2 separate regions of the Homo sapiens genome follow, and region 1 is linked to region 2. The links come from fine-mapping of genetic effects on gene expression. Tissue or cell type: stomach. Region 2 holds a variant in brackets; the other region holds the start of a gene. All regions are shown on one strand. Distances are from middle to middle.

Region 1 (8,110 bases), 220 kb after region 2:
AACCAATGTATTTCTTAAATGTATTTGATTGATGTCTCATGCCTCCCTAAAATATATAAAAACCAAGCTGTACCCTGACCATCTTGGGAACATGCTCTCAGGACCTCCTGAGGGCTGTGTCACGGGCCATGGTCACTCATATTTGGCTCAGAATAAATCTCTTGAAATATTTTATAGAATTTAACTCTTCATCAACAGACTCATGGTATTTAACCAAAACTTTTAATAAAAATGTGACCTTTTAAAAATCAGTGATTATATCTAAAAATTCAAATTTCTTACTATTCTTAAAAAAACAATATGACACTGTTACCAACTGGGAATAGGGGAAAGTAGCAGGGATTGCATAGAGACCCTCTCCTTGTGGCCTTCCCAACACTGAGGCAGAACTGTTGTCATTTATCACTGTCCCTGTGTTGTTTTTCTTCTTCCCTCCCACTTCGCTTACTCCAAGTGTCAGCCTGGCGCCAGTCCCCATGTGAGGTTGTAGCCTTATTTAGTTACTAATACTTGTTTATTTGTCTCTTAACCCTACAAAACTATAAGTTTCTTGAGAGCAAAGACTTGTTTCTCATTCACCTTTATTTCTCCTATACTCCCTCCCATCCAACCATAGTATATATTTATCAGCTATTTCCTGAATTTAGCGAATTATCAATCAACAAAACAGGAAAAATGTTAAAACTTAATTCATTATGAATGCTACTCAAGATTTAGCAGTTGGTAGGACTGCATCTTTACTATATTTAAATTCACTTCAAAACTCAATGATAACCCTTTTTCATATCTAAGTCACAATTAGGCTCTTTTTGAGGGTAGAGTGAATGAGAGGCTGAGATGCCGAAATGGAAGGAAGAAATCACGTGTTAAAGGCCTACTGTGTGCTAGGCACTGGTTGTAGGCTAAATAATAAAATGAGGGAAGGGCAAATCTAGAAATAAAAGAAACGTAAGGGAAGAAACCTATGTTGGAGCAGGTAGGAACAGCATTCCAGGACAGCCAGGATTCTGCAACAAGCAGTTAAAAGTATAGAGCTGCCAGGTCAGGGGATGGTTACTTTGTGTAAACTTTGTAGAACATTTACAACATTCTTAGAAGTGGTGAACTGATGCCACCTGAAGAGTCTATACTGAAGCCTATGACCTTCCCTGTTCCCCCAACTGAGGACTCTTCTCCTTTTAATCAAAGCAGTCAATTTAATTACATCTACATTGAGAAAGTATCACTAGATATCTTTTGCTATCTTGTTTCCTAGGAGGAAAATAGATCATAAAGAAATGTGTCATATAATCCCTGCTGTCAAAACAAAATAAGAAAAATCTGAAATCAGAAATAGTAGATTTCATTTAAGAGTGTAACAGCTTTAATTAAAACCCATAAAGCAAATACTTTGGCCTAACAGTGCTTGACATGTCGTACTGTAAAACCCTTTTAAATTAAATTTCTTAAGATAATGGTAGATTCACATGTAGTTGAAAGATATAATATAGAAATATCTCTTGTACCATTTATCCAGTTTCCCCTAATGGTAACGTCTTACAAAACTATAGTACAATATATCAACCTAAGATATTGATACTGACACAGTCCAGACAAAGCACATTTCTATCACCACAAATATCCCTCATGTTGCTATTTTATAGCCATATCCATTCCCTTCTGCCCTGCTGCCTAATTTTTTAACCTTTGGCAACCACTAATCTGTTCTCCATTTTTGAAATTTTGCAATTTCGCAATTTCAATGATGTTATATAAATGGAATCACACAATATGTAATCTTTTGGATTGGCTGTTTTAACTCAAGTTCTCTGAAGATTAATCCTGCTGTAAAACCTTCTAACTGATGCCAATCATGGAGCAGAATCAAAATCTAGTAAACAAAGACCTGGGGTTCTCTGATGACTCACATGAAAGCAAAGGGAACAAGAAAGATTAAATTTCATTGTCCTTTGTTCTCTGTGACAGGTTTCTCTGTTGTGTTTTCCTACCACCATAAAAATACAAAACCATTCTCATTGTCAAACTGTTTTACTACCAAGACTATTTTACACAGTCAGATTATAAACTTTTATGTTTGTGTGGCCATCAAGGTTTGTGAAGCTTGTCTCAGAAAAACATGCCCAATTAAGAAAGTTCAAAATCATCCTTATTTATATTAATCGTTTCCGATTCCAATTTACAATGAACTTACTGAGTTTTCCACTTAGAACTCAGTCTTCGCTCTCTCACAATACAAAAATAAATCTCACTGGAATTGCTGTTGTTGGAAACAGGAGCCCTTATGTTGTGTTTTAACCAGTGCAGAGAAGAATCGAGTGCATCTGTCAGCTCCAAAATCGAAAAAACTACAAGGCGATTTGTTTGTTCTCCAAATTTTTCCTTTAACACACTTAGGATGTCATTCATAACCACTTCTGATACACGCCAACCTTGGCAAAAGAATCTCATCCCTGAATGTTATTTCAAAAGGAAAAGCAAAATCTTGACCAGGTAATTGCCCAGCTTTCACTCCTTACCATTTTTAAAAACAGATACCAAATAGGCTCATCTCACATTAGCAAGTCGACAACACAAAGAACAAGCTACAAATAATGAAACGGTCTGCAATCTGTTGCCATGTTTCTAAACCACGGCCCTAAAATTCATCCACCTTTTAACCAGACCCACAGTACTCTACTGGTGACAATTTCTTAAGCAAGTCAAAACTCGTTAGTCACCAGACATATGATTACTAGATTAAGCACATACTCTTAAGTTTCAAACCTACGAATTTAAAAGAAAAATAAAGCCTCCAGACAGTTCCTTCCAGTGTTTGTATAGGCCAACAAACGATGAAAAAAATAGAAATGATGTTAAATATTTAAATAATCACTTGTCCAGTAAAAAAATGAACAGCAATTGAATATCTACTTCCTCAATAACCTTACCACATGCACATGTGCATGTACACAACACACAACACACAACACACACACACACACACACACACACACACACCCCTTTAGGACCAGCTTCCATAATACAATCTTAAACTACCACTCCTTTCCCTGCTCCCAGAAGGGACCTAAGGCAAGTACCAATGGTTCCATTTAGACTCTGGAAGTTAACCAGGACAACAGTACACACTCCTTACTCCTTGGTGTTAGCTCACTGACACAGGTGTCTCCCCGGTCCCAAGAGAAAACTCCTAAAGGGTAGGGACCCATGTTCCATTCATCTTTGTATGCCCCACAGTGCTAGAATCTGCAAAATGTTCTACACAGTGAGCACCAAACAAGAAATGTTGAATGTTAAAGAACAAAATAGAAAACTAGATGTACTTAAGAGATCTATAGAATTCCAGAATGCAATATGCAAATGTTCTTATTCCTAAACCTCTCCCAAAGAAGGTAGAGAATATTTAGCTTTGTGGCATTATGTGTCCAAAAGCTTATGTATGGACTTTAAATAATGTATGTATGGCTCAATTTTCTCATCTGAACAATGAGGATAATAAAAATAGCTAACTGATACGGTCTTGAGACAGTTAAAGATGTTGGTATAGGTAATGTCTCCTTAGACCAATGACACGAACGCTATACACATTACTTATGAAGGGTTAGCTACTCATTTTACTGGAAATAATAAATAATATAAATAAATAAGGTCCACACAGCTCTGCAAAGGAGACCAAAGGTTAAAAGAAATTAGCCTAGAAGACGTAATATCACAGTTTGGCAAACTTTTCTGTAAAGGACCAGACACTACTGTAAATATTTTAGGCTTTACAAGACAAGCCGCAATACCCTCAACCCTTGGAGCAACTATTCCCCCTGAAAAATTAGTAGATTTTTTGTTTACATTTTACATTTCAGAATTTAAGAATCATTCTTAGTTCATGGGGCCATACAAACATAGGCTGGATTTGGCCCCCAGGCACTAGTTTGCCAATCCCTGGATAAGATAATAATGGTAATACAGTCAGTGTTTTAAAAGCAACATAAAGAAATGTTTGTGAATTGGCTTAAAGGTAACTGAAAAACGTGCGGCCCCAAACTTCTAAAATCCGGACCGGCGGACCAGTGCGGTGGGGAAACCGGCCAGGACTAGGGCCGGTCTTCAGGAGCCGGCGCGGAACTCCACGGCTCTCGGGGTCCGCTAAGCCCCCGCCCACACTTACTCCCAGCAGCGGCCCGCGGCCGATCACCGTCTCCCCGGGCGCCAGGGCCACCCGGGGACCGCCGTCCCGCGGCTGCAGCTCGAAGCCCCCGGACATGGCGGGCAAGGATTAGGCCCCTTCGCCAGGAGACTGGCCCCTCCGCTGTTTCCGCCCTCCACAGACACGCGCGGGGCAAGCCCACGCCCTGGGAAAAAACACCGAGGGAGGGCCTCAAAGGCTCCCCGCGGCTGCGCCGGTCCTCTCAGAGCCCGGCCCCAGCGCAGCTTCACGAGTCCCGCCCCTCCACGCCTACTAATGACGCAACCGGGGATTCCCCAGTCTCGCCGCCTCAAAACTACTGTTTAAAAACCCCGGCTTATTCCCCAACACCCTTTTCACCTCCCTCCCATCTTGGAGGACGCCGGGCCTTGTAGTCCTGGTGGCTTTCTTCACTTCCTTTCCCGAGCGGAGACGCCCTGGAAAAAACTACCAATCCCCAAAGGCACTGCGCGCCCCTCTCGGCGCCTGCGCGAGTTCTGAGCAGGGCGGGACTCAGGTGGGCGGGATGCGAAGAGCTATGGGGAAGGATTCGAATTCCGGTGGATTTAAATCGCGGGAGGAGAAGCTACCGCGGCCTAGTAGGTAGAAGGGTCTTCCGTTCCCGTTGGCTTAGGTGTCTACGCTCCCGGGGACGCGGCCTGGACGCAAGCTCAGCCTTCCCTCCGCGGCCTGGAGCCGCAGTGACAGTCAACGCTGACGGTTGTTGTCACTTGTCAGTGCCCTGTGTTCTTGGGTTCCAGCAGCTGCAACCCGCGCGGGACACAAGGAGGGTGGCTCAGACGGGACGTGGGGTGATTAGCCCTGACCCGCGGGATTTGGACGGAGTGGGGCTCCCCGCCCCTCCGACTGCGCTGCCGCCGATCTATCCCTCCGAATGATAGTTGAAAGGGGGACGAGCTTTTACTTCACTTGAGAGAGAATTCAGGAAAGCTCAGTTCATAAAGGAGAAAGGGCAGAAGAGGGGTCGTTTCCAGGCATCCAGGCGAACCTGGACGTAGAAGAAAGATTCCTAGTGGGATTTTAGAAACTCGCAAAGGTATCCCCTGCTGTGAAATTCAAAAGCCTTCATTCCCGTTACAGGAATTCCACAAGGGGACGCATTTTATTCTCCCAGTAAGATCCTGGGAGAAGTGGATAAACACACTGTAACGTTTAAATGCACTGTAACGTTTTCCTAATGTGAGATTCTTTTCAAGAACGTTGTGGTTTGGCTTTGGTTTGTATTGGTGGTGGGAGGGGCCAAGGTGCATGGCAAAAACTTGCTCTTGACTCACCCGTTTTTACGTTTGCTTTCTTACTTCTCCTAACCCTCAAGAAGAAGACCTCTGTTGAACACAGACTGCAGTTCCAGCCACCACAGCTAATCTGGATCATGAATGGGAGCCACCGTGGTCTTGGCAAGTCCGAAAACATAGCTGAGTAGCTCGTCTAGAAAAGAGATTTGTGTTCAGCTGAGTTAAAAGAAGTATTTACCTCAAACCTCTCCTCTTGCACAACCAACCCCCGTTATAAAAGGAAGTGCAAAATGGAATAAACTGATTTTAAGTGAATACAAGCTGTCTTTATATACAAAAGTAACTCAAGGATGGTGATGTACCCAGTCATGCTTTCAACTGATTTGGGAAGCCTACACCATTCACCTTAGGTAAATTAGCTGAAACTGAGCTTTAAATCTGGGCTTCAAAGAGTCACATACTGTACCTAGCTGAGTTCTAAACATTGTTTACAGTTGTCACTCACTGTTGCTTGATGTCTTCAGTGACTATTATCCTTAGCTTGTAATTATGCATGTAGGATAGCTTCAAGGGGCCATTTCTAAAACACTACTCTTATGACTGAGTTGAATATTTGAGACTTTGTTTCATAATCCAGATCTCATCTTCTTGTCCATTTCAGATAGTAGTTGTGTCAAATGTAAGCACCTACCTACCTATAAGATACAAGTAGATAAAATTCTTATATAAACAACTAGAAGTCCAGCAAGTTTATGATTAAGTCACAAATTGCAAATTAATGATGAGGCATCAGTTCCCATGTACAACAAGTATTCAGGAGTTTAATAGGATTGACTCATATACATTTTCAAAGGTACAAAAGTACCGGGTATGGTGGCTCATACCTGTCATCCCAGCACTCTGGGAGGCTGAGGCAGAAGGATTGCTTGAGGACAAGAGTTCAAGACCAGCCTGGACAACATAGCAAGAACCATTTCTCCGTAAAACAGTTTTTGGTTTTCTGTTTTTTTTTTTTTCTTTTTTTTTTTTTTAAAGAGGGGCGGGGTACGCTGAGTCAAGAGAATCGCTTGAGGCTGGAGTTTGAGGCTGCAGTGAGCTATTATGACACATCTGCACTCCAGCCTGGGTGAGAGTGAAACTAACATGTTGGGTGCCTCCCATGTGCAATTCAGATGTAGCAAGACTAGATATTTTACCCACTATCACTGTTAATCCTTGCAAGAACTTTCAGGAGAGCGGCAGCATTGGCCCATTTTACAGATTGAGAAGCTAAAGTCAAGAAAGAGTTCTTAAATTATACCCAAAAAGCATCTGACTTAAAGTAGGATTTATACTCCTATTTGGAGACTGAGCATGTTTAAATTTTGCCTTTTAGGTTACATATGAGGATAACTTAAAACATTAAGCTATGCATAAAAACTCCAAGAGAAACAATAATTTAAGAGTTTCTCACACAGAAGCGAACTCTGTGGATGCTGAGAAGGAAAAAAATGAGAGTCAAAACAACTTTTTTGAACTGCTGCCTGCAGAAATCACTTTTAAAATTTTCAGTCAGCTGGACATTCGGAGTCTGTGCAGGGCTTCATTGACATGCAGGAGCTGGAATGACACAATAAGAAACAGTGACTCTTTATGGAAACCTCACTGCATGACTGTAAGAGCTGTGTGCCGAAGAGAAATAGATGATGATCTAGAAAGTGGTTATTCCTGGAGGGTAAGTTTAATCTTTGCGATCTGCAGTGTTGTTGACAGCGTTATGATAGCAGGTTTGCGCCAATTCTAACTTCTGCTTGGAGGAGTCAGAATTACATATGCAGAATAACACAGACAGTGTGTTGACTCTTGGAAATGAGTTAAAGTTATTAGTCTTTTCCTGCTAACCACACTGTTTCCACACTATCTTTCATTTATCCTTTTGCATTTTTAAAATTCTAAATTCGGGAATTTTCCTGCGTTAACCAGAAGGGAATTAGCTCCTTCTTTCCACTTCACCTTATGCCACTCAGTATAAATACACATATACATACACACACGTACACAGACACATACATTTATTAATGTACGTATATATAAATGTAAATACTCTTTTTTTCAGCCCTGTCAATCTGCTTCTCTTGCTTTAAACACATTCACTAACCAACCACCTACTACAGTCTTTTTTAACGGTGATTTACCTCTTTCAGGTGATACTGCTGAGGAATTACCAGAAGAGTAAAGTGAAACACGAATGGCTAAGTGGCAGATACAGCAACATTTGTTCTCCCATTAGCCTACCAGAAAAAATCATGTACCCAATGGATGCAGATACATGGGGGGAAATTCTAGAAGCAGAACTGGAAAGATAAGGGGAAAAAAAATCACAAATCTCAGGTCTTTGAAAGTTTAAAACTTAAATGACTCTTAGGTTGCAAAAGCGATATCTTTATTCGTTCATTTTGTTGTTCACCTTTTTAAAAGAAAATGAAATGGAACTATTATAAAAGTAAAGCTTTATTTTTGTTTTGCACTTTAGTAAAATTTTTCTGGTTTTATTGTAATGTGGAAAAATCATGAAATGTTATTTTTATAAGAAATAATATACTGATAGAGTGATTTCCAAATACAATGTTTCATGTATTTGTGTTAATATATTTGCAATACTAAATGTAAGAGTGATTTGTATGTTCAGCTTAATGAT
Region 2 (8,111 bases):
GAATTTTGCCTGCCAGGTACCAGTGAAAAATGAGGACGAGACCTCTGGCCCCAGCTATTGGCAGAGAGTCAGGCTTATTGGTGTACTCCTGCTGGCTGGAGCATCACTGAGAGCTCACAGGCCACGTGCTGAGAGAACATCACCCTCAGCAGCACATTTGTCAGAAAGCTGTTCTCACCTGGACACCTGAATCCATTACAGGCTTTCCCCAAACCCAGCAACACTGGAGACCTGGCTTCTCTCTACAAATACTCTACCCTTCGAAATCTCAGTCTAGTGAACAAACCTTTTTCTCCATGCAGAGTCCAGGCCAGGTGTGTTGGGAACATAAGCCCCTGTCAAACACCTCATTGTACCTCCATCTGCAGAAGAGAAGCATGTTTTCCTGACCTTCCGCTGGTAATCACCATGTTTTGGGATGCATGGTTTTTCATTTTAGACATTGATGTCAATTTCAAACAAGTTATATTCCTACCACACTCCTAACAAACCATATTTTAAATTAACATGCAATATTCAGATTTTAAAGCAAAAGTGCAAGCTAAAATATTAACCTGTTAATTGGTTAATAGTTATAAGGCCTAATGACACCTTTGAATCAAAAGATATACTGTATTCTGCTTCATTTTGCAACAATACTAGGAGGTAAGAAACACTGACTATTTCCTGGGTGTCAGGTACACAGTACCTTATTTCATCTAATCCATGGTCAGCTCCTCTTTGGCTCTCGGTACTGAGGATGAGTTCTGGTCCCAGAGACCAGAGACAGCAGAGAAGACACAAAGTAACCACAGGCCTTTTTCCATTTCAGTTGGTAATACACCTCTTCGTTATGAGAGTTAATGCAAATGAGCACAATCTAAATGAAGCCCCGCGGAATTACTCAGAAAGGGGAAGGCAATGCAAGATTTCCAAAGGAGTCTTGCAGAGAGAAACAGGAGAGCCCTGGGTGGTAATAGCTATCTCATTTCCTGCTAGCACTTTCTCGCCACATCACACCACTTCTCTGTTTTTCTGCTTTATCAATCAGTAAAATGAGAGCCTCAAGACAATAAGGCCCATGGCCCAGAGATCATGATTAACTGCAAGATTCAAAATCAGCTGCAAGAGAACGAAGCTGTCACATGGGTTTCTAAAGAATATTTGCCTCTTTCACTAAAGGGAGAATGAAGGTTGCTTAACCTCTCTGTGAAATAAGTTTCAGTTCCTCTTCTATGAATGACTGGCTAAACTTCATTTTCTCTAAGACCCTCTAGTATTCAGTTCTCTTCCCACCTGCTTGGCCTAATCCTGCATGAGAGGCAATGATTGGGAGCAGGAAAAGAAGATATGTAATTTAGTTTCTGAGGAACAAGTCTTCTGGAAAGCTTTGTAATTAACCTATTTTCCCCAAAACTGATTCTCTGTCACCCTAGGACACTGACAATAAACCATACCCATGATTTATCTTCTTACCTACTTGCAGTAAAGGAAAGAATAATGAACCAAGAATTGCAAGACCAGATTCTTATCACAAATCTCAAATAACTCTGTAATATTTGCGTAAGTAGTTAACCACCCTGGAGTGCTTTCTTAATTGAAAAATAAGGGGGATCCAGGCATGGTGGTGCATACCTATAGTCTGTAAACCAAAAATAAAATTCTAAGGCCCCCCAACCATCTGAATGGGCCTCTTCTCTTGGCCAAGGGCATTCCAAAGTTAACCTGAAAATCCAGTTCAGTCCATGATGGGAAGGGGGTGCTAGACATGCTCCATTATACCCTCCTCCCTTTTGGAATTACTCATAGAAAAGACTTTTTGAGTCTGACAGGAAACATTTGCAATCTATTCTCTCTAAATCCTGCTACCTAGAGGCTTCGCTTGTGTAATAAAACCTTAGTCTCCACAACCCTTTATCTTAACCAAAACACTCTTTCTAAGTCTTTAGATAATAACTATTTCAATCAATTGCCAATCAGAAAATCTTTGGTTCTACCTATGATCTGAAAGCCCGCAGCTTCCATTTAACCTGCCTTTCTGAACCAAACCAATGTATATGTTACATGTATGGATTGATGCCTTATGTCTCCCTAAAATGTGTGAAACCAAGTTGTGGCCCAACCACCTTGGACACATATTCTCAGCATCTCCTGAGGGCTGCGTCATGGGCTATGGGTCACTCAAACCTGGCTCAGAATACGTTTTTTTCAAATATTTTACTGAGTTTGACTCTTTTCATTGACAAGTCCCAGCTGTGTGTGAGGCTGAGGTGGTGGGATTGCTTGAACCAGGAGTTCAAGGCTGCAGTGAGCTGTGCTCATGCCATTGCACTCCAGCTTGGGCAATGGAGTGAGACCCTGTCCCCTAAAAAAAAAAAAAAAGAAAGAAAATAAAAAGCAAAAGGGGGTTGGACCAGGTGGTCTCTAAGGACCCTTCCAACTGAAACTCAGCAGTGCACGTAATGTGGAAGAAAGGCATTTTCATCATCTAAAGTTCTGAAGCATTGAACTCAGCAGTGACCCAGCATGCACAGCAAATTGCCCCGGAGTAAAAATTGCTTCCTGGAAGTGTTATTGATAAGCACTTACTTTTCATACCAGGTTTATATTTCCTACAAGAATAGCTCGGTCCCTTATTTAGAATGTGATGCCAATTTCACTACAGTTATAATGTTGATTTGAGTGTAAAATTTCATGGAAAACACACTTCTTCTAATTATTGATTTTTGCTCTGCCCAGTAGCTAAGAAATAAATGAATACATGATCTCTCCTTCAACAGCCTGAGGTTTTTTAAATTAAGAAGGAGAAAATAAGAGCTCAAAAATACTTTTGAGTAAATGAATAGTAAAACATGTAATACTTTCCAAACAATTTATTTCCTGCCATTTATGTTCCACATGAAAGTGACTAAATTCATGGTTATTGCACCTCATCATAGTCCAGAAACTATAATAATAGGTTCTGGAGATACAGAAATTAAGAGATTATTATTTAGTTTGAAAAGAGAAAATAGAGTAAATGGTGAAAGGTAAGTGTATTAGTCCATTTTCATGCTGCTGATAAAGACATACCCAAGATTGGGGAATTTATAAAGAAAAAGAGGTTTAATGGACTTACAGTTCCATGTGCCTGGGAAGGCCTCACAATCATGGCAGAAGGCAAAAGACATGTCTTACGTGGCAGCAGACAAGAGAGAATTGAGAGCCAAGCAAAAGGGGTTTCCTCTTATAAAACCATCAGATCTTGTGAGACTTAATCAACACTATGATTCAATGATCTCCCACAGGGTCCCTCCCATAACACATGGGAATTATGGGAGCTACAATTCAAGATGAGATTTGGGTGGGGACACAGCCAAACCATATCAGTAAGGTAGTCATATTCAGCTTCACTTTAAAATTGATGCCATAACGCGGTGGCTCACACCTGTAATCCCAGCACTTTGGGAGGC[C/T]GAGGCGGGCAGATCACGAGGTCAGGAGATCGAGACCATCCTGGCTAACACGGTGAAACCCCGTCTCTACTAATAATACAAAAAAATTGGCTGGGCGTGGTGGTGGGCGCCTGCGGTCCCAGCTACTCGGGAGGCTGAGGCAGGAGAATGGCGTGAACCCGGGAGGCGAAGCTTGCAGTGGGCTGAGACTGCGCCACTGCACTCCAGCCTGGGTGACACAGCAAGACTCTGTCTCAAAAAAAAAAAAAAGGAAGTTTTCATACAGAATGACAAATAAATGTACTATAAAATATATTAAAGCATCTTTGAAAATGTATTTTCACTGGTTATTTTGAATTTTAGTAAACTGAGTTGAAATTGTAAATGGGAAGAAAAGGACTTAACAACATTTAAAAGAATAATCTCAAATTGACAATGGTAAATTCAGCAAAATTACTAAAACACAAAAACTTCCAACTGACTTTTATACAGTAGACTGCAACAAAGAATATAGAGAAGGAAATGCCTGCCTGGTTTAAAATAAAAATCATGTAGCATGTCTGCTCTGATTCTTTAATAGCATCATATCAATCATGTGTTGTGAAGCCGTCACACTTCTATAGTGAAACATAATTTGACACTTAACTGTATACAGTGCTTAACATTGTCATGTGTATTCTACTTGAGCATTTTGTAAATTAAACTAAACACTGCTATAGAAAAAAAAAAAATTGATGCCATAAATGTGGTTAGGTTTTAATGGAAAGTTCACATTTTTCTAGCAAATCCACAGTCATTAAGATGTTCTTTCCTGCATGTGTGGTGGGCCAGGGGCAGAACACACATGGACAGGTATGTGCCCATACGTGTTCGACGGCCCAGGTGGGACATCGGATCTATTTGGGAGGACTGTTTCAATGGAAAACTATAAAGAAGGACCACAGAAGTCGGCATCTTGTGGTAGGGGTTGTACCATTTTGTGTTCCCACTAGCAATGTATGAGAGTTGCAGTCTTCTCCACATTCTTGCTAATATAGTATTGCCAATATTTTTTAAATTTTAGACGTTCGAGTTGGTGGAAATTGCCATCTCACTGTGGTTTTATTTTTCATTTCTCTAATAACTAATGATGTTGAGAACCTTTTCTTTTTTTTTTCTTTTCTTTTTTTTAGTGTGAAAACATTAAGCAATTTTATTCCTTCTCCCATGGACATTTAAACCAACATTTCTGGACTTACTCTTTTCTCCATTTCTGGATGAAATCTCAGGCATGTGCTACTCGCTTTCTGGGTACTCTAGAAATAATCACATAGGCCCTTTTGTTTGGCATGTAAAAATCCAGTTCTGTCTAATAGATTCTTAACCAGTCGAGTTCCATCTAAGTAGAATGCTTCTCTCCTACCCTAGCTTGCTCTGTTTCCATTCAGACGCCTCTCTGTGGGAGGGCCTGCTTCCTTCCCTGGACCTTTGCATATCCCATACCAGGAGCTGTGAACTGAATGTTTGTGCCCCCAACAAAATTCTTATGTTGAAACCTAAGGCCCAAGGTGATGGCGTGAAGAAGTGGGGCCGTTGAGAGGTGATAGGGTTATGAGGGCAGCCTTCATGAATGGCATTACTGCCCTTATAAAAGAGGCTTGAGGAGGCGTGTTTCCCCTTCTGCCACATAAGGACACATGGAAGGTGCTATCTATGAGACACAGGTCCTCACCAGACACTGAATCTGACAGTGCATTGGTCTTGAACTTCCCACCCTGCAGAACTGTGAGTTTCATTTATGAACTACACAGTCTAAGGTATTTTGTTATAGCAGACTGAATAAACTAAGACACCAGACTAAGTTCTGCTCACCTTTAAGTCATCACACACAAGGGCCTGTTGGGGGATGGGGGGAAAGGGGAGGGAGAGCATTAAGACAAATACCTAATGCATGCAGGACTTAAAACCTAGATGATGGGTTGATAGGTGCAGCAAACCACAATGGCACATGTATACATATGTAACAAACCTGCAGGTTCAGCACATGTATCCCAGAACTTAAAGTAAAATAAAATTTAAAAAAAGAATACCAACAAAACAAATATATTCTCTGTCCTTGTGGAGATTATAGTATAATGAGAGAGAAACTTTTCATGTGCTAATTAGCCATTCATACATTTTCTTTTGTGAAATATCTGTTCAAGGCTTTTGCTACTTTTTATTGGGTTGGCATTTCATTGTTAATTTTTAGTAATTCTTTATTCTGGATTAAAGTTCTTGTTAGATATACGTATTACAAATTTTTCCTCCTGGTTCGTGGCTTGCCTACTTATTTACTTACTGGTGTCTTCATATGAGCTGAACATTTTCATTTCGATGAATTCTAATCTATAAAATTTTATTTTATATTATGTTTTTATGTTCTGTCCAATAAATCTATTTCTGCCCCTAAGACTGTGAAGATACTCTCCTATGTTTTCTTCTACAAGCCCTTTAGTTCTTGCTTATATTTTTAAACCTTTGAGCCATCTGAAATTAATTTTGGTGTATCTATAGAAAGAAGGTTTGAGGTTCTTTTCTTGCCATTTAGCTATTCAATTGTTCCAGGACCATTTGTTGAAAAACAAACAAACAAACAAACAAACAAACACAAGTTGCTTTTTCACATTGAATTGTTTTGGTGCCTTTGTCAAAAATTCATTGCCCGTATATGTGCGGGTCTGATTCCGGACCTTCGTTTCTGGTCCTTTGATTAAGTTGTCTGTCCTATGCCAATACCACACCATATTGATTACCATAGTTTTATGGTAAGTTTTGAAATCAAGTGGTAGGTGTCCTCCAACTCTGTTCTTCTTTTTAAATTTCTAGATCCTTCACATTTTATATACATCTTAGAATCAGCATGTCAATTTCTACAGAAAAGAGCTTGCTGGAATTTTAATTGGAATTTTGTTAAATCTATAAATTTGAGAAGAATAAGTATCATAACAAAACTGAGTTTTCCAATCCACAAACATTGGATGGTTGATTGGATGATCCACTTAATTCTTAAAAAGTTAACTCAGTGTCTTCTTTAATTTAATAACAACAGGATTTGGAGTTTCAAGTACAGAGGTCTTGCACATCTTTCCTTCCTAAGTAACAAATGGGTTTTAATACTATTGTAAATAGTATTGCTTTAAAATTGTATTTTCCAGCCAGATGTGGTGGCTCACACCTGTAATCCCAGCACTTTCGGAGACCAATGTGGGAGGATCATGTGAGGCCAGGAGTTCAAGACAAGCCTGGTCAGTAGAGTGAGACCCCCATCTCTACAAAAGAAATATTAATAAATTAGCTGGGTGTGGTGGCATGCACTATAGTCCCAGCTACTTGGGAGACTGAGACAGGAAGATTGCTTGAACACAGGAGGTTGAGGCTGCAGTAAGCCATGATCGCATCACTGCACTCAAACCTGGGAAACAGAGCAAAACCTTTTTACTTCTTCTTTTCCAATCTTTATGCCTTTTTAAATATCGTTATTGCCTTATTAAACTAGCAGAACTGTAGCATAATGTTGAATGGAAGTGGTAAGAGCAGGCAGCCTTGTCATGATCCAGATTTAAAGGAAAAACATTTATATTTTATCTAGGTTTTTAGTAGGCACTCCTTATCAGGTTAAGGATGCTCACTTCAATTACTTCAATTACTAATTATTTATTCGTTAATGTGGTGAATTATGCTGGTTGTTTTCCAAGTGTTTTGCCAATCTTGCCATCCCAGGCTAAATGTCATTGTTGTGATTTTACATATGCATACACATGCACACACACACACATATATATTACTGGATTACATGTAATACATATATACATTCAAATATATTTTAATACAATTGAATATATTACTGTATCCAGTTTTCTTAGATCTTATGAAGAAATTTTTCATCTAAATTAATTAAGAATATTAGTCTATAATTTCCTTTCATTGTAATATCTTTGTCAGGTTTTGGTATCAATGTTATTCTAGCCTCATAAAACTATTTGAGACAGAGATTTTGTTACTGCTATTGGTGGTGGTTGTTTTTATGAGGGAGGGGGCGAATGAGTTTTGATTGCAAACCTAGTGTTCTAAATAGATATGAAGTTATTAAGATTTTCAGCTGGGTGTAGTGGTTCACACCTGTAATCCTAGCACTTTGGAAGGCTGAGGCAGGAGGATCACTTGAGCCTAGAAGTTCAAGACTGGCTTGGGCAACATAGTGAGACTGCATCTCTACAAAAAAATTTTAAAAATTAGCCAAGTGTGTTGGTGCACACCTTAGTCCCAGCTACTCAGGAGGCTAAGGTGGGAAGTTTGCTTGAACCCAAGAGGTGAAGGCTATGGTGGGCTATGATCTTGCCACTGCACTCCAACTTGGACAATAGAGAATGTCACTGTCTCAGAAAAAAAAAAAGAAAGGAAGGAAGGAAGGCAAGCTACTAAGATTTTCCATTTTTTGTGTGTGTAAGTTTGTTAAGTTGTATCTTGCTAGAAATTCATTCATTTTATCTGAATTTTAAATTTTATTAGCATAAAATTGTTCATATTACCCCCTCTTTTTAATAAATATAGAATCTTCACTGATATCTCTTGTTTCAATCCTGGTATTGGTTATTTGTATTTTTCTTCTCTGTCTTGCTGAGGATGTATCAATTTATTAATCTTTTCAAGGAACAAACTTTAAATGTGTCCATTTTTCAG

Direction of the effects. Positions count from the first base shown, and alleles are read on the strand shown. Sizes are in standard deviations (SD) of each study's normalised expression.
As copies of T replace C in region 2, the expression in stomach of the gene that starts at base 4,693 in region 1 goes up (large effect, 1.2 SD a copy in GTEx).

What was found. PIP is the estimated chance that this variant, and not a neighbour inherited with it, causes the effect.
Region 1: it holds the start of FBXO48, and the variant in region 2 is fine-mapped to the expression of FBXO48 in stomach (GTEx, PIP 0.99).

What each region holds. Positions count from the first base shown.
Region 1 is chr2:68,463,877-68,471,986 of GRCh38, reverse strand. It overlaps FBXO48 (F-box protein 48), which reads left to right and starts at 4,693. Exons shown (of 4, transcript NM_001024680.3): 1 at 4,693-4,776; 2 at 5,517-5,843; 3 at 6,809-7,147; 4 at 7,617-8,110. The coding sequence starts at 6,842. The coding sequence ends at 7,778. APLF (aprataxin and PNKP like factor) reads right to left here and starts at 4,402. Exons shown (of 10, transcript NM_173545.3): 1 at 4,160-4,402. The coding sequence starts at 4,255. RefSeq lists a silencer at 4,118-4,327 and enhancers at 3,669-4,563, 4,564-5,459, 5,553-5,612.
Region 2 is chr2:68,683,115-68,691,225 of GRCh38, reverse strand. No RefSeq gene overlaps it. Among named protein-coding and RNA genes, the nearest start is that of PROKR1, 44 kb to the right of the region's middle. The variant C/T (reference allele first, on the strand shown) is at 3,432.